Linked DNA regions of Homo sapiens. The protein of the gene in region 1 purifies or fractionates together with the protein of each later gene. This does not show direct contact. Each region holds a gene or a part of one and is shown in the gene's direction. Other genes may lie near its edges. The genes, in order: KCNK1, EI24, SEC63, RER1, PGAP4, SLC25A4 and VSIG1.

Evidence for each region.
Region 2: the proteins of KCNK1 (region 1) and EI24 purify together in Homo sapiens (affinity purification with mass spectrometry; one large-scale study listed by BioGRID and IntAct). This does not show direct contact.
Region 3: the proteins of KCNK1 (region 1) and SEC63 purify together in Homo sapiens (affinity purification with mass spectrometry; one large-scale study listed by BioGRID and IntAct). This does not show direct contact.
Region 4: the proteins of KCNK1 (region 1) and RER1 purify together in Homo sapiens (affinity purification with mass spectrometry; one large-scale study listed by BioGRID and IntAct). This does not show direct contact.
Region 5: the proteins of KCNK1 (region 1) and PGAP4 purify together in Homo sapiens (affinity purification with mass spectrometry; one large-scale study listed by BioGRID and IntAct). This does not show direct contact.
Region 6: the proteins of KCNK1 (region 1) and SLC25A4 purify together in Homo sapiens (affinity purification with mass spectrometry; one large-scale study listed by BioGRID and IntAct). This does not show direct contact.
Region 7: the proteins of KCNK1 (region 1) and VSIG1 purify together in Homo sapiens (co-immunoprecipitation; one large-scale study listed by IntAct). This does not show direct contact.

Annotation. Positions count from the first base shown.
Region 1 is NC_000001.11:233,612,773-233,616,905, forward strand, and holds the start of KCNK1 (potassium channel subfamily K member 1), read left to right. Parts: upstream 1-1,333; 5' UTR 1,334-1,399; coding exon 1,400-1,754; intron 1,755-4,133. UniProt on the Homo sapiens protein: Ion channel that contributes to passive transmembrane potassium transport and to the regulation of the resting membrane potential in brain astrocytes, but also in kidney and in other tissues.
Region 2 is NC_000011.10:125,575,977-125,579,476, forward strand, and holds part of EI24 (etoposide-induced protein 2.4 homolog), read left to right. Parts: intron 1-278; coding exon 279-339; intron 340-1,527; coding exon 1,528-1,594; intron 1,595-1,759; exon of another isoform or gene 1,760-1,930; intron 1,931-2,156; coding exon 2,157-2,281; intron 2,282-2,972; coding exon 2,973-3,092; intron 3,093-3,500. UniProt on the Homo sapiens protein: Acts as a negative growth regulator via p53-mediated apoptosis pathway. Regulates formation of degradative autolysosomes during autophagy.
Region 3 is NC_000006.12:107,955,409-107,959,498, reverse strand, and holds the start of SEC63 (translocation protein SEC63 homolog), read left to right. Parts: upstream 1-1,290; 5' UTR 1,291-1,489; coding exon 1,490-1,613; intron 1,614-2,235; exon of another isoform or gene 2,236-3,534; intron 3,535-4,090. UniProt on the Homo sapiens protein: Mediates cotranslational and post-translational transport of certain precursor polypeptides across endoplasmic reticulum (ER). Proposed to play an auxiliary role in recognition of precursors with short and apolar signal peptides.
Region 4 is NC_000001.11:2,394,841-2,398,340, forward strand, and holds part of RER1 (protein RER1), read left to right. Parts: intron 1-943; 5' UTR 944-950; coding exon 951-1,031; intron 1,032-2,275; coding exon 2,276-2,380; intron 2,381-3,500. UniProt on the Homo sapiens protein: Involved in the retrieval of endoplasmic reticulum membrane proteins from the early Golgi compartment.
Region 5 is NC_000009.12:101,472,670-101,474,921, reverse strand, and holds the end of PGAP4 (GPI-N-acetylgalactosamine transferase PGAP4), read left to right. Parts: 3' UTR 1-1,752; downstream 1,753-2,252. UniProt on the Homo sapiens protein: Golgi-resident glycosylphosphatidylinositol (GPI)-N-acetylgalactosamine transferase that catalyzes the N-acetyl-beta-D-galactosamine transfer from an UDP-N-acetyl-alpha-D-galactosamine to the 4-OH-position of the first mannose of the glycosylphosphatidylinositol (GPI) of a GPI-anchored protein (GPI-AP).
Region 6 is NC_000004.12:185,148,574-185,150,882, forward strand, and holds the end of SLC25A4 (ADP/ATP translocase 1), read left to right. Parts: 3' UTR 1-1,809; downstream 1,810-2,309. UniProt on the Homo sapiens protein: ADP:ATP antiporter that mediates import of ADP into the mitochondrial matrix for ATP synthesis, and export of ATP out to fuel the cell.
Region 7 is NC_000023.11:108,062,065-108,065,564, forward strand, and holds part of VSIG1 (V-set and immunoglobulin domain-containing protein 1 isoform 2 precursor), read left to right. Parts: intron 1-2,645; coding exon of another isoform or gene 2,646-2,723; intron 2,724-3,500.

The DNA of each region.
Region 1 (4,133 bases):
GCAGATGTCATTTTATTTTGTAACAAAATACAAATATTTTACATATTTGAGATTCTACACAGTTTTGCTTCAATAGTCTTTAGACACAACTTTAATGTGTTTAATGTCTATATGGTGTCCATGCTGTAGAGATGCCATAACTTATTTAACCATTCTCTATTTTGGAATATTTAGATTGTTCTGAGTCTTCATTATTTCATCTATACCGTGTGTGTGTGTGTGTGTGTGTGTGTGTCCCACATGTGTATGCACTATATTATACAACTACATGTATGTATATATAGATACCGTCTATGACCAGTCTTTGTAAGTAAGTGCCTCTCTGATTGTTTTTTCTTAGGACATATCACTGAATCAGAACAAATAAACCCTTTCAAGGTTCTTGAGACGTGTCGCTAAATTGCCTTTCCAGAAAGGGTGTACCAATTTTTATTTTCATCCACAAGCAGGCGGCTCGCTGACCCTCGCCCACATTTTTGTCACTTTAAAAAGAAGTGACAGTTGGGAAAGCTCAGTTTCTTCTGGCAGTTGACACATTTGGGATGTTTTTTCACCAAAAAACCTAAGGTCATGTTTTAGAAAATTCGAACTCAGAAATAGGACTTCTCTGAGACTCTCCTTTTCCCTCAAGTCCTTTTTGTGAGGGGGATGGGTGGGAGAGAGGAGACTGATTCAAGGAGCCTTCCAACTCTGATGTTCTGGTATTTTCACCGTCATTACTGGCACCAGATTGCTCAATCCTTCGACCAATAAGACAAAGAAGGAAAGTACTTCAGCGCTTGCTGTTTTGTAATACTGGCTTTGATTGGGAGAAAATAAGTGGGAAACAAGAGTAGCTTGGACAGGGGGCTTGGACGGCCAGCGCATTGACCAGAAGCGGCCCACACTACACGCGCGCGAACACACACACACACACACGCACACGCCGCGCGCGGTCAGCTAGAGTTTGGCTACTGGACCCAGGAAGGGAGGGAGCGGGAGGAGCTGGTGGCTGTCGGGTCGGGGTCTGGGCGCCACCGAGCGCCCGCCCCACCTCTGGAGTGCGCAGAAGGCGGTGCGTCCCGGGCCCCGGCAGCCCAGCCCAGGCGCTCTGGCCAAGTTTGCGCGCGGTCTCCGCTGACTCTCGGGTTACCTGAGCCGGCAACCACGTCAGCGCCACATCATCTGGGCTTTTTATATTGCAAGGAAACAGGAAAAGAAGGAAGAAAAACATCGCCCGAGAGAGCCAATCGCAGGAAGACGGCGCTGCCCGGAGGAGCGGGGCGGGCGGGCGCGCGGGGGAGCGGGCGGCGGGCGGGAGCCAGGCCCGGGCGGGGGCGGGGGCGGCGGGGCCAGAAGAGGCGGCGGGCCGCGCTCCGGCCGGTCTGCGGCGTTGGCCTTGGCGGCGGCGGTGGAGAAGATGCTGCAGTCCCTGGCCGGCAGCTCGTGCGTGCGCCTGGTGGAGCGGCACCGCTCGGCCTGGTGCTTCGGCTTCCTGGTGCTGGGCTACTTGCTCTACCTGGTCTTCGGCGCAGTGGTCTTCTCCTCGGTGGAGCTGCCCTATGAGGACCTGCTGCGCCAGGAGCTGCGCAAGCTGAAGCGACGCTTCTTGGAGGAGCACGAGTGCCTGTCTGAGCAGCAGCTGGAGCAGTTCCTGGGCCGGGTGCTGGAGGCCAGCAACTACGGCGTGTCGGTGCTCAGCAACGCCTCGGGCAACTGGAACTGGGACTTCACCTCCGCGCTCTTCTTCGCCAGCACCGTGCTCTCCACCACAGGTAGGGTATCCTGCGCGCCCCCTGGCCGCCCCGGCCACCTCGCCCACAACCCACACACCCCGGCCCCGGCGCCCCGGGCCCCTCTAACCCTCCCACCCCACCCCCCACCTTTCGCCATCCCGGCTCCTCCAGCCCGCCTCCCCTCACTGTCCTCCCGACCCTCCGACCTTCCCCTTACTGGCGTCCCCGGCCTCTGCCTGGGTGACTCGGGAGGGCAAGCCCTGCGGAGCCGGAAGCCAGAGAGGTGACTCCAGACGTGACTTGGTTGTTGCCGTCCGTAACTCTGGGGAAGTGGTCCCTAACTTCGGCCTGGGTGGCTGCAGGTGCTTCCTCCCCTTGAGTTCTTTTTTCGCAACCCACTAAGCCAAACTGTCGGGTTTGAATGTGTAGCAGCACCTGGCCGCCGTGCGGCAAGGCAGCGGGATGATGGAAACTCACCACCTTCCTCCCGCACCCATCCCAGAGGCCGAGGCTGCAGTCTGGTAATAATACCTTCTAAAGGGTCACCTTCCGGAGTGTGCCGTCCCTTTGGACCATGCACAGATATTCCAGCTCTTTTGTACCTTGGAGGCAGTTTTGGGGGTAGCCGAGTGACATCACTCTGCTCTTCCCAGGTGACCTCTGGGCGGACAGGCCGATCCGGTTTCTTTTCAGAGTAGGAGGAAGGGTGAGGGAGAGTAAAGGAACCATAGGATTGCCTAAGATCTGACTTAATTGGGGCACCCTGATTCAGCAGTTCCTTCAACTTGAGGTGTGCGAGGCTCCCCATAAACTTCGAAGCGCCACGTCCCCGTACGACTCACCCGCGGGGCGCCCGGCCATGGAGGAGCCTCCTCAGGTGAAAGATGAGGCCGGGCGCATGCCCCAGGGCTCGGTCACTGTGCCAGATCAGATGAATGAAGGCCGAATTTCCCCAGCCGGACCTAGTAAGGCACATACCCAGAGTGGAGATATCAATTGGTATTTGGACAGTGGGAGGAATCTGAAAGAGCGTTCAGCACAGTCCCTTCTTTTGATCTATGAGATCCAATCTTTGAAATAATCCATCTCGTCATGCACAAGGTCACACACTTCCTAGTTACCAGTGTCGTCCTGGAACCTGGGCCTTGTGATTTCTCTGCCAGGACCACTTTGTAACCCCCCACCCTCAACCTTTACAGGTGAATCACATCCCTTTGTGTGACTCCCAACTCTTCCTTCCTCCCCACCCCCCTCCACCACCCAAATTATTGTGTATAATTCCCTTTGGGCTATATCTTGTTGACTATCTTGGTAATTACTTGGTAATGAGTAATAATACACTATTCATGTAGATCACATGAAACAATTATTCAGAGGTCTGGGGTGAATTACTAAACTGATGTAAATCTACCCTGAAATAAACAGAAGTGGAATTCTAGCTTGTATTGTGAGATCTAAAAAACTGTTAAATGTAGCGCTAGACAAGACAGACCTGTTATCTCACTTTCCAAAGAATGCCTGTTCCCTTGCCAATACAATTTAATTTTTCTTTCCATAACTCTGCCTCCATTGTCTTTACCTAGTCCTCTGTTCCTCAGATCATTTAGGAGTCACCATGCCTTTCCTTTGGAGTATATTTGTGCTATATTGAGAGTCATTCATTCTTCCCAGAAGTAAGTGTTTCCATGGGGCTACAGAAAGTTTACAACTGGGTCACAATGTTGGGTAAACATTTCGAAGGATGCTTATAGCGTGTGGTGTTTTCTTACTAATGATATTGTGAGGATAGAACAAGAATAAGAACAGTTTTGAGGAAAAAGGTTTGCTTTTATCTGGGTGGGATTTTTCGTGACTCATGTATAGTCTTAACATCATATTGTCTAATTAAATGTTAAAAATTAGTTTATAATCTTGAATAGATGAAATATTCTTCCCAGAGGAGAATTAGAAAAAGGGATAGTTTCTGTTTAAGAAAGGGGTGGGGTGGGAATAGACGTCTTATTATTGGTATTCAGATTGCTTTGTAGTTCCTAAGAAAGTCTGTATTCATGCAAAACAAGTGTTCATTTAAGAAATCAGTGCAAGGGGCACTTAAGGATAAACTAAATGAAAAAGGTGCCTCTTGGTTTGTAAAGTTAGCACATCAATGAATTCTTGTTATATGAATACAACTATTCTAAATGAAAAGTACTCTTCTGTTGGCTTTGTACTGCCCCATTATTTGACACATTTGATATTTCTTAAGGTTTCAAAATTATAATTACCCATTATTTGATTCATTTGATGTTTTTTAAAGTCTTCAAATTATCATAGGTGCCCTGGCCATGAATCTTATAATGGGTGAGAAATCTTTTCTTCCCTACAAGGGGAAATAAAGAGATGTTAAATTGTGTGCTGGAAACAAACAATATTTTAAAT
Region 2 (3,500 bases), on another chromosome or scaffold:
GACAGGGTTTTGCCATGTTGGCCAGGCTGGTCTCGAACTCCTGACCTCAGTTGATCGCCTACCACGGCCTCCCAAAGTGTTAGGATTACAGCCGTGAGCCACTGCGCTTGACCATTTTTTTAGTCTTTTCTCATTGACTGACATTAGAACATTGGGAGAACATGAGGCACTGAAAAATAATACAGTACCCACAAAAGATAAGATATAAAATGAACTACTGAATGACAATTAGGAAATAACTTATGCTTTATAAACTAAATACATGTGATCTTTTCCAGTGAGCCACGTATTGTTAGTAGAATTTTCCAGTGTTGTGCTTGGAATGGTGGAGTGTTCTGGGTAAGTTCTTTAAATTCCAGGTGCCTTATAAGCATCTTCAGATTGTTGCTGGGTTGATAGCTATGAACTGTTTTCTTGAAACACTGAGACAAATAGTTTTCATCTGCTGATGTACACTTAGAAATATAACTCAGGAGTCTGTGCATCTGCAGAGATTTTATTCCCACTCAGGAAAGCACACTTATATGTAAGCAAACGTCACAGCCCTGAATATACACTTGAATTTTGTTTCTAAAATGACTCATTCACAAGTATTAGAGGTAGCAGTTTCTCTTGACACTGTCTAGACATTTTAAAATGCTAACAGCAACTATGGGGACTCGGGAAGGGCAGATACGGCTAGACAAGAACAAGGTTCTCCCTGCTTCTGCTTATAGTGATCAACAAGAGTTAATTTGCATTGAAACCTATAGCAGAAAAGATTGCCTACCATTTACTGAGAATCCCAGTGCAGGCTTAACTGAAATTTGGGTACTTTGAAGAATGGATAAATATTTCCTTTGACTTAGAATTTAGAGTAATTCATCACTTCTTAATCTAAACAATTCACAGATGTTTTCAGATGTTAGTTTTAAATTTAATTAATATGTATTCCTGTGTACTTAGTACATGCCTGTATTTTGGCCTGAATACTACTTGAAATGTTCCTGTATGCCCCCAAAAGTTTCATTGTTTTATAGGCAATATCAAGTTTGTATCTCTCAATTGGAGTGTTGGGAAATAGAAATGGATCCAGTTTTGGTGCTTTTTCAGGCCTCCTGATTTATTTTATTTATTTATTTATGTATTTATTTGAGATGGAGGCTCGCTCTGTTGCTCAGGCTGGAGTGCAGTGGCATGATCTTGGCTCACTGCAACCTCTGCCTCCCGGGTTCAAGCGATTCTCCTGCCTCAGCCTTCCCAGTAGCTGGGATTACAGGCATGCACCACCACACCCGACCAATTGTTGTATTTTTAGTAGAGACGGGGTTTCACCATCTTGGCCAGGCTGGTCTCGAACTCCTGACCTCAAGTGATCTGCCTGCCTTGGCCTCTCAAAGTGAACCACCGCGCATGAGCCACCGCGCCCGGCCTAGGCCTCCTGATTTATAAAAGTCACTCCCATCTATAAAATCATTACACTAAAAATTGAAGCTCCTGTTTTAAAGACTGGATTTTGATGTTTGCCTTGTTGCTTCTTTTCTTTAGTTCAGTCTCCTCTTGTTTTATCGAGTATTTATTCCTGTGCTTCAGTCGGTAACAGCCCGAATTATCGGTAAGTGTATACCCTGCTCCTTGTCTGTTGGGGACAGAGTGGGAGATGATGTTTCAGTCTCCCTCAGTTTACTGAACATTTCCTGTGTACCAGGAGCTTTCACTGTTTATTTTCTTTTTTGTTGTTTTATTCTTTTTAAAAATTTATATTTCGTTATTCTCCTAGAGGCCCTTTAAGAATGGGTACTGTTGTTCTATCCATTTTATGAATGAGGAAATGCAAGTTACCAAGGTTAAACCATTAGTAAGAGGCAAAGCTGAGATTTAAACCCAGATGGTATCCTGCAGATAGCGTACTGGTAATCACTGTGGCATCTCGTTACCATCATGTAAGCAGGTTTGTGTCAAGCAGCACATATCTATGGTTTCTTTGAATTGGAATTGTGGCCAGAATGTGGTGCGTCTATTATGAGTTAGACTCTTTGAGATAGGTATAGTGATGTGCTGGCAAGAACTAGAAAGATCCAGGAGGAGACAGAGAATAGTCACGAGATGGGGGTTCCGCATTTGGTCTTCTGGATTTCCATTTCTCCATTTCTAGTAACTCGTTTCCTCTTTCTTAGGTGACCCATCACTACATGGAGATGTTTGGTCGTGGCTGGAATTCTTCCTCACGTCAATTTTCAGTGCTCTTTGGGTGCTCCCCTTGTTTGTGCTTAGCAAAGTGGTGAATGCCATTTGGTTTCAGGTAGGTCCAGGGCAGAATGGAGTCTGGGTCCCGCAGCATGATTGGCTGACAGGTGACAAGTTTCAGCCTGTGAAGTTAGTGGGCATGTAGGGGGACCTGTTTTTCAGCCTTAATGTTTCTTGGCCAGGTAGCCAGTAGCTGATCTTTGTGTTCTTACAGAATGGAATTATTGTCTCAGCATCTCATTGGCAGGTGTCTGGTGCCTTTTCTTTTTCGTTTTGGCTTTTTTTTTTTTTTTTTTTTTTTTGAGACAGTCTCACTCTGTCGCCCAGGCTGGAGTGCACTGCAACCTTTGCCTCCCGGGTTCAAGCAATTCTCCTGCTTCAGCCTTCCAAGTAGCTGGGACTACAGGCACGTGCCACCATGCCTGGCTAATTTTTTTTGTATTTTTATTAGTGACAGGGTTTCACCATGTTGGCCAGGCTGGTCTCAAACTCCTGACCTGCTGATCTGCCTGCCTCGGCCTCCCAAAGTGCTGGGATTATAGGCGTGAGCCACGGCATAAGGCAGCAATCCTCCTACCTTAGCCTCCTGAGTAGCTGGGACTATAGGCACATGCCATCGTGCCCAGCTTATTTTTAAATAAGCCTTTTCTTAACTGGCAGCTCTAGTGGCGGACTAGTGGCCTTAGCTTTGGGGATGTATATCAAGGCCATTTAATTCATGTTTTGGTACACTTTCTCTGTTACAGGATATAGCTGACCTGGCATTTGAGGTATCAGGGAGGAAGCCTCACCCATTCCCTAGTGTCAGCAAAATAATTGCTGACATGCTCTTCAACCTTTTGCTGCAGGCTCTTTTCCTCATTCAGGTGAGACTGACCTTCTGGGCATATGGGCAGCTTTATTAAAAAGAAAAACTGTTTCACTAGAGAGAACTTCACAAAGACAGAGTATTATATTTATACAGAGTATTATATATATGCTGGTGGGAGGTAATGATTTTTAAATCTTTTTTTCCCCACGGAAATGAGAATTTTAAAATTACATTATAAAATTATAAGAAACATGAATTTACCTGCTTTTTTCTGCTACTCTGGTTATTCTCCAGTCCTGCCAGGTGGAAACTTTTTTTCTTTTTATAGTTATGCCTAATTTTTTTTTTTTTTTAAAGAGACAGACGGGTCGGCTGGGCGCAGTAGTTCATGCCTGTGATCCCAGCACTTTGGGAGGCCGAGGTGGGCGGATCACCTAAGGTCAGGCATTTGAGACCAGCCTGG
Region 3 (4,090 bases), on another chromosome or scaffold:
ATGCCAGTCACTGTCAGGAAATTTTAAGGTCCTGGGCGATGGAGGGTCAAGGGCACACTGGCTTTGTGGCATCAAAATGATATGGGTTTGAATCCTCAGACATTCTTTTACTGTGAGGGACCTTGGGCAGTCTCTCTGGGCCTCAATTTTCTCATTTGTAGAGCAGACATACTTTGCTTTATTCCATGGGGTTTACTGATGACTAAATGACACAAAACAATAAAGGTCTCAGCCTACCGCCTGAAGCTGGTGGTTATAATTAGCAGCTCTGGAATGGGTAGGGAACCATCTGTAACGGCTTGGGGAAATCTTCATCTGCAAGATGGGCACAGCGTAGATTCAAATCTGTCGCCCAGTGGAGAGCGATCCGGTCTCACTGCAACCTCCGCCTCCCGGGTTCAAGCGATTCTCCTGCCTCAGCCTCCTGAGTAGCTGGGATTACAGGCGCGTGCCACCACAGCCGGCTAGTTTTTGTATTTTTAGTAGAGACGCGGTTTCACCATGTTGGTTAGGCTGGTCTGGAACTCCTGACCTCATGATCCACCCGGTCTCCCAAAGTACTGGGATTACAGGCATGAGCCACTGCGCCCGGCCAGATAGTAAACATTGCTTTGAAAACACAACTGCAACCCACACCTCCCGCAACCCACACCTCCCCATCCCCCAATTTTTTTTTTTTTTGAGATGGAGGCGCGCGCCACCACGTCCGGCTAATTTTTGTATTTTTAGTAGAGAGTGGGTTTCACCATGTTGGTCAGGCTGGTCTCGAACTCCTGATCTCATGATCCGTCCGCCTCGGCCTCTCAAAGTGCTGGGATTACAGGCGTGAGCCACTGTGCCCGGCCTCCCACCCCCTATTCTAAATGACACTTGTTTCCAAAATATGGGGGCTGGAGGAGCAGATCCAGAACCCAAGGAAACGTGATCAACCAGGGCAATTAATCCAGAGGGCAGGACAGGCTGAGCCTCAGCTCTTCTCTGAATATCTGGGACCCCTGCGCAGCCAGGTGAACCGCCCGCGACCGCTGCTCCGGCGGGAAGCCTTCTCTGGGATCCTGTACGCCGACGCCCGGAATCCGGCGTGGTGCGCTGGGAAACTGAGCGGTGGAGGAAGGCGGAGCGGTTAGGGGCGGGACCCTAGGGGAGGGGTTGGGGGAGGGCTTTGACGTTAGGGCGGGGCTAAGGGCGAGACCTCGCCGAGTTCCACCGTTGCGCTCGCCACGTCTCCCTTAGCGAGCTCGCTGGGGACACGCAGGGGGAGGGAAAACTGAGCGGGGCGGGAACTATCTCCTCTCGCGAGAGCTGGCGACGGCGGCGGCAGCGGCAGAGGTGGCGGCGGCGTGTCCGTGAGAGTGGCGTGGGGGCGGGGAGGAGAGGCGGCGGCGGCAGTGTCCAAGCTACGCCACTCGGGCCGGGGCGTTGGGAGCGGGAGTGCAGAGCGTGGTCGTGGCGGCGGCGGTGAGAAGAGCGAGGCGGAGGAGGGGGTGCCATGGCCGGGCAGCAGTTCCAGTACGATGACAGTGGGAACACCTTCTTCTACTTCCTCACCTCCTTCGTGGGGCTCATCGTGATCCCGGCGACATACTACCTCTGGCCCCGAGATCAGAATGCCGGTGAGTCCCGCCGGCCTTTGCCCGCGAACCCGCGCAGGCCCCGCCAGCGCCCCCAGGCCCTGCGGCGCCCGCTTGCCCGGCCCCAGCCCGCGGCGTCCGGGATGACAGGGACGGTGCGGCCCGGCCTGTGTCCAGCGTCCGCCACTGGCGGGGCCCGGGTCAGCAGCGTTTCCCTCGGCGCTTCTCCACCTCCCTTCATTGTCCTCAGGAGTTTCGCTCGCTCCATCTTCTCCATTGTTGTGGACGCTCCTTGCAGCCTCCTCCTGCCTCTTTGTCTTCTCTGCCTTTGCTTTTATTGGGGATTTTTCTTTATGGAGGAAGCGGGATGGGGACTTGGGAGGTGAGCAAAGAGTTGGCCAAGAAGAGACTGAACGTGCGGGCACAACTCTCAGTCCGTCCAGTTCGCGGCCCTCATCCCCCGACTCCGGTTTCCCTGTTGCAGCTGCTCTTAACAGATGTTTTAGGGCATCTCTGAGCCGGGTGGCATGCTTAGGACTCCAATTGAGCTTTCCACCGCCTACCCCCGTCACTTCCTCCCGTTGCTTTTTCATTTGTTCACTCACTGTGGGGGTTGGAAGCAATGCCGTTATTCCTCTTAGCAAAAATAGGCTTTTTTCTATTTCCTTTTCTTCGGAGTTTCCTGTTTGTGACGGAAAAAGTGCAAGTATGAAGGATTAAGTCTCGTTTAATTAATCTTGTAGGGAATTTTGAGGTAGTGGGTCGATTTACTTTTGGTTCTAAGTCTTTTCACATTAAACAACATCGAATTAAAGCACAGAATAACAGATTCTTTTCATATTTCACTTGATGTTTGGGTAATGTTTGCATCCATTTGTTGCACTCTACTAGGACATATGGCAGATGGTATTCTTAAAGCTGATGTAACTGCGAGGGCCTAATGGGTTATTTATGGTAGTGTTAACAGTAAGGAGTGGGTTTTGAGTATTAACAACTTAGGGAAAGCTTTCTATTGCACAAGAGCTGTGCTAACTTGCTTAAATATCTTCTCTTCAATTGGGTGTGCTGGAGGTCTAGGTTGTCCAGGTTATATACTCTACTTGGAGAAGTTGTTAACAGTGAAGCCTTGAATCAGCTCAGAACTTGTTATACTTTCAGATGGATTCAGTGTCCTGTAACATTCTTTTTCCCCCCCGCCCCATGTGATCTGCAGGAAACTAACATTCTTGACTTGGAATAGAACTAAAATAAATTTAGGATAAATAGTAACAAAGGATTGCATCATTTTGTACGTTTGACAATAAGTTTAAAAATCCATTAGATGCAAAAATCTGTCCAAAGTTACTAGTCTTAATACTTTTTTTACTCAATGGGTAGTTTATGAAATTTGGATCTTGGACTGTTGTGCCTTATTTCCTAAGTGCATTTAAATTGTGTAGGTTCTTCCTCGATGTTGAAAAAGGAAAAAAAATTGGGTAGGTTCTTTGGGCAGTGATTGTGTATAAGTGAAGTCTTAATGCTGTAATGGCTTTTCTTATCTGCAAACCTAGGCCATTCTTGTGGTTGTTGTATTTCAAGTTAAAAGGGTACACTTTTCAGTAGTTTATTTTCACCTAACAGCCATTATGTGTGCAATTGGTAGTGTAGAAAACAAAAAGGTATTGGGAGAGTAGTCGGTGGGTTTGGCCAGAATGTGTTTTGATCAGGCAGAACAAAGGTATAAAAAAAAGTGTTTTGAGAAACTGCCCTGATTTCAGAAATTAGCCATCATTTTTTAATCTACATTGGATTTTTAAAGTTGTTCTTTTTTTCTTTTTAAAGCGGGGAGAGTCTCATTTACCCAGGCTGGTCTTGAACTTGCTTCAAGTCATCCTCCCGCTTCAGCCCCCCGAGTAGCTGGCCTTACAGACTTGAGCCACTGTGTCAGGATGGATTTTTGAAATTTGAAAGTCATATTTTCATGGTGAGTTTCGTATTATAAAATTCACCTGATTTCATAGAAGAATCATACTATTTATTTATTTATTTATTTATTTATTTATTTAGAGACAGAGTCTCACTCTGTTGCCCAGGATGGAGTGCAGTGGCTTGATCTTGACTCATTGCAGCCTCCACCTGCTGGGTTCAAGCAGTTCTGCCACAGCTTCCCCAGTAGCTGGGATTACAGGCGTGCACCACCAGGCTTGGCTTATTTTCGTGTTTTTAGTAAAGATGGGGTTTCACCATGTTGACCAGGCTGGTCTCCAACTCCTGACACCAAGTGATCTGCCCTCCTCGGGCTCCCAAAGTGCTGGGACTACAGGCATGAGCCACCACGCCCTGCCAACAAGTCATACTTGACCCCCTTCAGCATGTAAGTGTCTTTGAAAAAGTGGTGGTAGTTTAGGTGGAGGGAATTAATACTATTTGTAAATCATGGACTTCAACTTTTACTTTATTTAATCTTCTTAAAAATGCAGTGAGGTTGGCCGGGCATGGTGGCTCACGCCTGCCGTGGCTCACTTTGGGAGGCCCAGGCG
Region 4 (3,500 bases), about 230 Mb from region 1:
GCTCAGGGGCCAGGAGGCCTCTCATCTTTAAAGTAGGAATGACAACCGGCAGGCCCTGGGTACTGAGCTGTGCTTTACCGAAGAGCGGCAGGTCCTGACGCCGTCTCCTCTCAGGAGTGGGGTGGCGGCGTGCTCAGCTGAGGAGCCAGGTGGCAGTCAGGCTTGGCTTGGCCTGCCCAGAAGCAGGGCTGTGGCAGGACCTTGGACACGTGGCTTCCACTGTTTGAGACTTGGTGAAATGGGGGTCATGATGCCCTTCACTTGAGCATCTGGGAATTAAGTGGGTGAACAATGTGACCTCTGGCACCTGGGTTCTCAGGTGAATTCCTCATGGCATCACAGCAGTGTTGAAATAGGAGCAGATACGTTACCTCCGCTTGCCAGATAAGAAACTGGGACGCAGATGGATGGACTACCTGAGAGTTGTAGATAACATTTTCCTGTTCATGGGGTGGAGGACCTGGCCCTGAGAGGACAGGATCCCTCCTGCTCCTGCCAGACCAGAGACCCAGGACAGGGCGTGGAGCAGACAAGGTGCCTGGGCGGGGGAACCCTGAGGGATCCACAGAGGGTGCGGTCCTTGGAGGGAGGACATGCAGTGCCACGTGCCATGGACCAGCCAGTGGACCCCATGGCCAGCAAGGCTGCTCCTGGGGCCAGTGGGGTGGACAGTCCCGCCCACGCAGGTGACTGAGGTGCCAGTGTGGGAATGAAAATGCGGCCTGTGCTCCTGGGCCCATGCGTCTCACGCTGCCCTTCCTCTCCAGGGAAGCCTGTGTACCTGCTACTTTTTCCCGAACAATTCATGGTAAAAACACAAATGGTATATGGACAAAATACTGAATGTGGAAGAAACCTACTTGACAGTGTTGGTGAAAATAGGGCCAGGATTTCACACCCGTGAATGCTTTTTACTGAAAAGTATTTTGTGTTTTTCTCCCAGTTACAGAATGTCTGAAGGGGACAGTGTGGGAGAATCCGTCCATGGGAAACCTTCGGTGGTGTACAGATTTTTCACAAGACTTGGACAGGTTGGTGGGTTTTTTAGTAGATGAGTATAAATATTTGAAAAAGAAACGGGACTCCCAGCATTTTCGGGAAGGATCTGTTTGCTGGTGTTCCTGATGGAGAAGTTACTTCGCCTCAGGCTCAAACTTCCTGAAGACAGCGTTCTCTTCACTGTGAAGGGCCAGCTGTGGAGAGATCGGGCTCTGGGGCCACACGTGGTCTATCAAACATATGCGTTTTCTGTTTCTGTTTTCCTTTTACCAAGCTTTAAAAATATAAAACCCAGTCTCAGCTCCCAGGCAGGACAGATGCGGCCGTGGCTGCCGTTCTGCTCTTGCTGTCCCTCTCCCAGCCACCCACGTCCCCGGTGCTGGTAGCCCCACCTGCCCCGTGTCAGCTCGGCGGTTCTGTCCTTGAGGGTGAGAGGCTCTTGTGTGGGCTGCGTGTGCATTGCTTGGTGAGTGAGGGACCTAGAGCTGCCTTTGAACGCTGGAGTCCGAACCTCTGTCAGGAAAAGCTTGGGTCACCGGCAGTTCCAGGTGCTGAGGATCCGGCTCAAATAAAAATTCATCACCTTAATTAAATCACATATGAAAAGCGATTGGCGATTAATGAAGTTGGGTGACAGGCATATGTAAGCTTCTATAATCTTTTTACTTTTGTGAATTTGGAAATTTCTCACAATTTGAAAATTAAATTTCTAAATTAAAATAAAAAACCATACATATGTATATTTGTAAAAATAAATACATAAAACTAAGGGCTCCTTCGGTCATGTCCACAGCCGCCTGGACGCACACACATGTGGGTGTGGCTGCTGGGGCTCAGGCTGTGGCCAGTGGGCCTGGGAGCGGGGCAAGGCTGGCTGCTGGCTGCTGCAGATGGGGGAGCTGACTTGAGATGTGACGATAAGGGCTGTGCTGTAGGGTGGGGACTTTGAGATGCACAGTCCTCTCTTTGGGGTGAGGCTGGGTCTTCCCCATAGTGATCCCTTGGGGCCAGCACAATGTCACAGTCTCCTAGGAGATTGTTTTGTAATAGTCTTGCTTAAGAGATGAACCTGCTTCAGGAATTATTGAAAATAAACTTTGGATTAATTGTAGTCACTTCTTTGTGCTGATACATAGATGATCTCTTGCTATTTTAACTCACTCTTTTAGCTGTTTTAAAAATTGAAAGCCAACCCTAGCAGAAGGTACATTTTGTGGCAGGGTCAGTACAGAAGTTACAGGACCTGCTTCATGCTTTTGGACTCTTGTCTTTCTAGATTTATCAGTCCTGGCTAGACAAGTCCACACCCTACACGGCTGTGCGATGGGTCGTGACACTGGGCCTGAGCTTTGTCTACATGATTCGAGTTTACCTGCTGCAGGTAGGTGTGGGCTGAAGTGACGAGACTTGGCTCTGTCCACGTTACCTGGGCGTGATGTTTGTGGGGATGTTGTTGATCCAGTCTGTCTTGCAGGAAGTGGTCTCTAGTAATCAATTTTCAGCTAAACGCCAAATGTCAGAAAGATCTCAGTGACTGTCTTTAACGAACAGGGTTGTTTATGATTCACCCGGAGTCGCCTCGCCAGGCTTCTCAGTATACCCAGGCCGTCCTGAGCCCAGCCTGGCCCTGCCCTGGGCACGTCCAGGCCTGGACAGTGGAGCCGCTGGTGTCCCTCCGACCCTGCTGCATGATGCTCAGGACAAGGTTGCGCTCTGTGGCTGCCTCATTCCTTGGGTGAAGAGTCCATGCCTTGGGTGTCATGAATGACTCGGCGTCCAAAGGGTTTATGTAGCTTTTCCTGAGCTCTCCCTTGTGTGAGGCCAAAGCACAGTGCAGGTTGAGACGCCGAGTCAAGTAAGAGAGACAGTGACCGAAGGGGGTCTTGAGGGTTTCCTTCGTGTGTTTTCGGGCACCCCTAGGTCAGGTGATGTCGTCTCAGACTTCACCTGGGTGCTCCTTTACTTGCTGGTAAACACGGGGTTTCTAGGAGCAAACCTGTAAGATGGGAATTCTTCGTCGGTCTTTAGAGGAGGTTACATAATCTTATGTGCAGAGCAGGGCATGTTGAAAGCCTTGTCTGGGCTATTTTCTCCTCTGGGGACTGTAGAAGATACTTCCTTGTTTAAAGCACACACCTTAATTTATTTATTTATTTTTGTTTTTAAATTGGAACTGGGTCCATTCTCTGATGGAAAGAATGACCTAGAAATCTTGAATCAGGGACTTCAGGCAGGAGCAGGGGGCGGGAAGAGTGCAGCACCCACAGGTCAGTTTTATTGCGTTCGAAACCAAGCTCGTGCCTCATTTGGCGTCTCTTCAGGTGTGGCCCTGCAGCCGAGGATGGACACACAGACATCAGTTAGCCCTCACATCCGGCGTTCAGCCGAGGATGGACACACAGACATCAGTTAGCCCTCACATCCGGCGTTCAGCCAGGGATGGACACACAGACATCAGTTAGCCCTCACATCTGGCGTTCAGCCGTCTGACTGGAAAAGCT
Region 5 (2,252 bases), on another chromosome or scaffold:
CACCTTGGGCAGGTCATATAATCACTCTGGGTCTCAATTTCTTCACCTGTAAAATGAGGACAGTAATACTTACATGTTAAAGTTGCCTTGAGGATTAAATGGCAGAATATATGTAAAACACCTAGCAAGTGCTTAGTCCATAGAAGACGCTTGGCAAACTTTTCTCTCCTATAATAAACATATACAACTCAAGCTTATTTCGGAAAAAGATATTGGTGATGTTGTTTAAAGTATGAGATAGGGCATGGAGCTGCCACCTATGTACCAGCTATTCCAGATGACCAAGCCCTGCTAGAATAAAGACTGACTTTTCATTGTGACCTCTGAAGGATGTGCAGCTCAGCTTTCACCTATCCCCACGTTCACCCAAGCCAAAAAGAAGAATTGTTCATTCAAACTGGAAATGATCTCCAGCTTGGAAATGAGACTCCTCATGAGCTTATTCTAAGATCAGAGTCTGAAAATTATTTTCTCAAAAGTTACAAATAAATGTCTTTTAACAGTACTGTCAGACTAGTGACCAACAAGTTACTTTATGAGGATGGATGATGATATTAGAGTTCAAGCAATTGTCCAGTTTGTTTCGATGCCACAGTTTGCTTTTAAATTCCCATAGTGAGCTTCCATCTTGAGACCCACTCAACACAGAAGGATTACATAAAGGTTGATCACCCACGCTCTACAGATGAACAAATTGAGACCCAGAGATGCTAAACTGCTCTGCAGGTCACAAACCTGAACAGCAGCATAGCCAAAATGGGAACGGAGCTCTTCTGACTTCAAGCCCCTGCACTTTTTTCTTAACCACATTAATTTTATGAATATCTATGTGGTCAAAGTCTCTTTTGTAAAATCTGAGTATAAGCTGAACTAGATCATGTCTCTGTAAGCTAAGATGGCAGAAACACATTGTCATGTTAGTTTGGAGGAGCAAACAGATATAAGTATGTGTTGTAATGTTATAGTGAGCTGTTATGTATCCCCCAGCAATGTCCAAAGTGATCAGAGCTACTAGATGACTTATTACAATGTTCAGATCCCACTCCTTCATTCCTCCTCTCTCAGTGACCTGTCTACCCCCAAGCTTTAGAACTGAGCTCTCTCCAACTTAGAACTCATTAGAGTTTGTTGCATTAGTGATTGGATCTCCTCATGAAAGTTTTTTGACCAATGACAGTAGAGCCCCTTTAAGCTAGCCAGGCCCAAGATAGGGAAGCACTGCTGGTTTACATTTCTGCTCTTTCTAATTCAGTTGTCTATTGCATGCAGACATCCCCTGCCCGACTTCTCCATTATGGAAGGCTAAGGCCATCCTTCCTTGTCCAGTTTCTCTACCTACACACTAACATGCCTTTTCCCCATGGAGTGAACTCTGCCAGTTGTCTTTGGACATTTTCTGCAGATGCAGGCTCAGTTCTGCTCTTTTGTTCCCACCCACTTCTAGATCTTCCTCCATTTAATCCCTTATTCTTATAAGGAGTCTAATTTTTGTGTATTGTCCTTGATTAGGGCAGCTGACAGCTTTACACCAAAGCTGAAGTCTCTCACTTAATCCTAAGCAAGGGGCTAGGGAGAACTAAGATATCCTTCCCATATCAAGGGATATAGGTTACTAGAAGGGTGGAGGTCTCTTAACAGGCTCACTCACCTTTCAGAGTTTAAATTATGGTCAGGCTTAAGAAGCTCTCTCTTGTGACTGAGTGTATTGCATAGACATGTCTGTGAAAATAAAAGCACCCATTTTGCTAAGGCTTTCTGAGAAGACTTTTATCATTCTCTGTCTTTCCTTTTCATGAATGGATTTTTCTGATGTGGCAAATAGTATGGGCTCCCTGCGCCCACACACAGTTTTGTAGTCCCAAGGGAGCCATTCAGAAGTATTGGCTGCTGCCTGCACAAGCAACCATGGCCACAGATCCCTGGGTCACAGCAATGTCAGAGCATTTATCCATCTTTTTCTGGGTAAAAAAAGTGGGGGTCACTGCTACCACCCAGATCATCTTACCTCTCACTGGTATACCCCTGGTACAATGTGGTGATCATTCCTTCACTCTTTCCTGCCTCTTGCCCTAAAAGTCTTAGAATAAGTTGCAGAGCTGCCATGGGTGGTATTCCTGTCTAGTGCTCCATTGGCCACCCCAAGAACATGCAGCAACACCTGTAGGCTGAAAGAGAAAACCCAGCCTTCCCCTGAGAGAAACACGCAGAGATCCCTCACACCCATCCTCCCCCCACTCCCAACACACACACTG
Region 6 (2,309 bases), on another chromosome or scaffold:
ATAACCAGATTTAGAAACATGGGTATAGAAAGCATCCTCCAGTACTTCTGTAACAATTTATCAAGACCTACAGGAAGTCAGTTTTGGATTTGCTCCTCCGAGATTTGCGAGCCAGAGGAAAATACTTAGACTATCAGGTTGGAAAGTTCACACTTGGACCAGGAAAAGACCAAGCAGTTGCTATAGTCTCCTGGATTGTGACTAATCTGGAGGAAGCAAGTCCCTGTATCCTTGGCAAAGCTTGAAAGGCAGGCAAATGTCTTCTCTGTGTTTTCTGACAGGTGGTTGGGTGGTGGGGGTTGGTCTCTGTACCTCCTGTTCTTTACCTTGCTTACCAAGCCCTTCCACCGACTCACTCCTGCCTCCCCAGCTAAAAATTGGCTGTGTTGCTTTTACCACAGTTACCAAGGTCTGAGTTTTATAAAATCCAGGATCACATCTGACCTCACCTGGTAGATATCTAGGCCAATAAAGTCTAAAGGGCTAAAAAGAAGGTACCTCTCCATCCTGTCTCCTCGAGGCCAGGCAGCACATGTGCAGTTAAGAGGCCTCCTGGATCCATTGTCCTCCTGTTGCTTTTCGTTCTAAGTGATCCAAACTCTATTGCTGATAGGGAATAAAAGCAGGGCAGGCTAGTAGTGGGCAAGTGCTTTGATGGAGCGTATCTCCAAGCAGGGCCCAAGTTTAGGAGGAGGAAGACCTGATACAATGAATGAACAGTGCGTCCTCCCAACCCAACCAAGAAGTGTAATTGTGTTCCGTCTTTAACCCTGGCATGGAATGGGGAGGGAAGAGGCATGGACATTTATTACATAGTGCACATTATCTACATTCTCTGCATGTGACCCAGATGTCAGCCCTTCCGCTTCCTGCGAAGGTTACCTCTAATGCACGTTGCCCCAGGCCCTGCTGAGCTAGTTCCTCACCGCAGCTACTTAACTCACCATGAATTCCTAGAACCCTCAGCCTCTGAGAGTGCTGGGATCTGGCGGGAGAACAGGCAGTACTTCCCTCACTAACCTACCCGCACGCCATACCATCATTGTGCAAAGCTGCCTCATGCTGGAAGGTCTGGTTTACGTAAAAGTGACAAGTTGGAATTGAGCGTCCGACTCTCGGGTACCTGCCCCAGGCATTTCTCATCAGCCCCATTTCCCACACAGCTCTCTCCTAGGCGCAGCCCTCCTTCACCACCACCACCCCCACCCCAATCACCTTTAGGTATTTTCTCCCCTAAAGCCTCACCTGTTGGCATTTTACATCTTTTTAAGACCTTATTTTGTATTTTAAATGTATGAGAAAAATTATGGAGGATGATGCAAGATGAGTGAGTCCATAATGGTAATAATTGGACACTAAAAACAATGAAAACTTGTCTCAAGTATTTGTGTTGAAATCTCAATTAACTGGGCGACTGCTCCCGTTCCATTTTATTCTGTAAAATATGTGGCATCCTTTGTGTTGAGGCGGCATTTACTAAACACCCCCAAGGTGCAAGGCTGCAAGAGAATCGAGCGCCGCAAGGCGAGCTTATCTTCCACACCTGGTACAGTGCCCAGGACAGAGAAGGTGTTTAGCAAGTTTCTGCTGAATGGAAGAGTGAGCGAGAAGGGAAAGTGCATCTAAAAAGCACAGGGAACCTACAAAATATTTGGGAAAGGGTTTCATCAGTTCGGGTGAAATCTTGAACGTGCAAAGCACCATGGGGGTGGCTGGACAGGCTTGTTGGAGTCGTATAATGCAATGAATAAAAACTTACGGCTGCCTTAAATGCAAATGTCAAGCCCTTAAATAAAATTTAACAAAGTCTACCGTGTCACAAATTCTTTGCTTTTCTGCTCCTCCTCAATATCAGAGATTTTATCAATCCACAATAAAGTACAGTTGATCTCATTCACAGATTACATATCTGTAAACTGGCTTCACTGCCAAACTTCATTTGTAACCACTTTAAGGTCCTTGGACACACAGAATGATGACAAACTCAAGTTGCCTGACACACATCCCTAGCTGCAGTGGAACAAGGTGACACTTACCCCGCCTTTTCATTTCAGCCTCATCCTGTAAACAAGCATCCTGTTCACATGTTTACTTCGTGCTACAGAAATTCTGCTGTTTAAAAAGGCCCTCAAGCTTTGTGCAGTGGCCAAAATGCAGTTTATCCAAGGCACAATCATTGCCAATTAACATGGCCCCCAAGCAGAATGCTGTTCCTCAGCACAGGAGGGCTAAGACATGCCTTGTGGAAAACACATGTGTCAGATCAGCTGTCTTCAGGCCTGGGCCATGAGCTCAGTGTTAATGATCAG
Region 7 (3,500 bases), on another chromosome or scaffold:
GGCAGGCTAACATGGAAATTTGGGGTGGTCTGGTGCCTTTCTGGTCACACAGATGGCTTCATCTTCCATCCAGTCTGTTAATGCTAACACTACAGAGACCCCACCTGTCCCTGAACAGACCATGCCTTGACTCTGCTTAGCATGAATCTCTCAGACAATACTTATTCTTCAAGAATGTTCATAGTGAAAAAATACCCTTTGCCAGTCTCATAAACAACTTAGACAACTTCTTTCCCAGGACCTAGTGTTCTTATGTTCTCTGGCTTCTCAGGTTTTACAACCTGAAATACACAGGACAGAGCCACACAATAAAGAGTTGTCTGCCCAAAATGCCAGTGTCACCCCTACTGAGAAATACTGCAAGTTCTTCCCCACCCCACCATCAAATTTATGTATTGTGTCCCATTCACTTTCTGCTAAATCTGATAAATTAATCTCATGGTAAGGTGTTAGGGACTAGCGAAAGCTTATTTTATTCTCTTCTAAAGAATGCATTGAATGGGACCTTCCATGCCTTCTTCCAAAAGGAGCAACTCAAATGGCAGATACCCAGGCAAATGGAGGGTTGGTAAGAGAGTTGGTTTGGAAGCAAGAGAGTCTTTCTTTTGGTATCCCATTCCTTCCACATGCCATCCCTGCACCACAATACAGTCCAAATAAAATTCTGAGCTTGTGACCATTGCCACCTTATACCTGCACACCCCTTCCCTATCCTATGGCTAGCCCCTCTATCAGCAGTACAAGAAAGCAAGAAGCTGGAAAGGAAAGAATGGGTGGTTTGCTGTGGATGTCCATGTCCTCCACCTTCCCAGAAGGAATCTGCAAAAGCAGCTCTGGAAGCTAACTCCAACTCAGATTCAAACAGAAAGCAGACTGAATTCTTTCAACCCTTCTTGTTTATACTCCATGCTTCTAGTTAGAGAGCAGTGTCACTAAGCTGAGGAAAAAGTCTTTTAGGACAAATCTGGTTCCCAGCTGCACGGCCTTGTGTGAATAGGAACTTGGCACAGTAGGAAGGGAAAGGTTGCTCTGCAAAGAACTGAGGGGCCTACAATTGCAGCTGGCAAATATTGAGGGCATCATGTGGTGAACATACTCAGCATGGGAAGCATCATGCCAATAAATAGCAACAATTGGCAGGAGAAAGGTTGGGCTGGAGCAGGGAATGGAATGGTCCCAAAAGGAGAAGGTTGCCCAGGAATCATCTTTCTCATCTTAAGAAGCACTGTGAGTGCCATCTTAATATATTCAGTGGGAATCAGAAGGTCTGAATTCCAGGTCTGACTGTAAATTGTGTGACCTTGGGAAAATGGCTCCCTCTATTGAGGCCTCGGTGTCCTTTTTTTGTATTAGAAAAGGATGAATTCGAGTTTACTAACCGCAGGCCTCTGGGTCAGATTTGGCCAGTGGATGTATTTCAGTCGGCCTGCCCAGTATTTTGTTTGTTTGTTTCAACAGTTCGAATGCCTTGTTTGCGTTGACTTTTCCGTTCCCTGCAGTCCCCATATCTGTTATGAGCTTACCACTACTTACCAGCCCCTCCCAGCCATTTCCCATATTTCCAATATCCATCGGGCTCCTGAAGGCCCCTTAACCTTAGAAACCACAAACCAAACTATCTCACAGAGGTCTTATAATTAATGTGCAATTATGACTCCACCCATCAGCCTCTAGCGTCACCCTGGGGGCAGGCAGAGAGGACCTTGGGAGAAAGCAGGGCAGTCTACCATGAACCCAAGCACAAAGTGCAGGTGGGTAAAAAATTAACAAGCGCCCCTTAAGGGAACACTGGGATGGATTTCCTTAAAAAAATCACCTCCTCCCCACCTCCACCCAAAGATGTGGCCCATTGTACATCCGGGGCTTTTTCTGGATCTCCATTGCTTTGACGTCTAAATTGATAATATTCTTTCTTTGAAAAGTGTACAAGCCACACAGGATCATGGGCCAGGCTTTGGCCACTGTTCAGCTTTGATTTTTAAAAGAGTTATTCTTTTATGGAAAGTGGAATCAAGTTGTAGCCCTTCCTATATGATTAGATAAGCAGTTTCAGGAAAACACTTCTTTCTTTTTTTCTTTACAAGGACAGTGTGACTGTGTGGACTTCCCCTTAACAGAAAGCCCCTCCATGTATGTGTCTGGCTGCTGCTGTCTACCCCTAGGTACTTTACTTCTTACAGAGAACTGTGAAGCCAAAGCCTTGGCTCTTTTAGGTCTCCATTGTTAGCCCTCACTACCCCCATTTCTGTCTCTAATACCTTTTAGTGTCAATCGTGAGAGGGCAAAATGTATTAGACTACAGCATGAGGAGCTAGCATGTAAGAGGTAGTAAAGGTCTTTTTCATGGGTAAGGTTCCAGGGCCTCATTGCTTATATACTCATTTCACCTTGACTCATGCCCAACTATGGGACTTTTACAGTGGGCATGGACACATGGATACAGTGGACACTTTTACTTCTTCTCATATCCTAATTCTGGCCTAAAACACACCATTTTGGCCTCAAGATCTCTGCAGAAATAAGGTCCTTTTCACCTGGATCCTCTGGGACTTGCTGTGGGCCTCAGGCGTGACTGATGTTGTATCTCATTGTGATGTCATCAAGCATCAGTATAAAACAGGGCTGATGTTTTACACTGTCCACAGTCTCCTTGGGAGGAGGGGAAGTGGCCAGATGTTGAGGCTGTGAAGGGCACTCTTGATGGACAGCAGGCTGAACTCCAGGTAAGAAACAACAAGACCTCAAACTGTCAATTAGAAAGTAAATAAGCCCCATGCTGCCTAGTGAAATTGAAAGCCTGATAGCGTGGGTGCCAACTCAAATGAAAGTAATCCTCTGATGTATTGAACCTCCTTCTGTCCCACTTGAATACCTGGAGTTAATCCTGGCTTTCTGGTTTGGAAGTCAAACAAGACCATTCTGGGGCAAGAGTTTGTGATTTCAGTAGGTGTGAATGAATGAATTATAAATGGCTGCATTTATAATGCAAGCAAGAAAACACGTTGATGTTAGAAAAAACGGGAGAGAAACAAATAGTTTTCTCTGTAAATGTACTCTTTTCCTGGGATTTTTCCCTCAAAATCCAGCTTTCTGCCTTAGTTTTAAAATATATTGACTTTCTGCTTAAAGGAGAATACATTTGAATTCATCTAGACAATATCTTTTGGTTTTCTAATTGCTTTCCCTCTTTTATTGGCCTGTTAAGGTAAAGCCCACAGTACAAGGAATTAGGAAAATTGGATTCCAGATCTGTCTCAACCGTCAATTTTGCCTTTTATTTTTTAACCTCTCTGGGCTTTGGTTTCTTCTGTAAACTGAGGGAAGTGAATTAAATGAACTGTAAGGCCTTCCAGTAGATTTTATGAAAAATTAGTCTCACCAGACTAAGACAATACAGTTTATTGAACAATAACAATCACTTGAATAATATACATTTACATGAAACCAACAAAACATGTACATAGAAGGTGTGTATTATGAAGGGACCTCAGGAATTACCT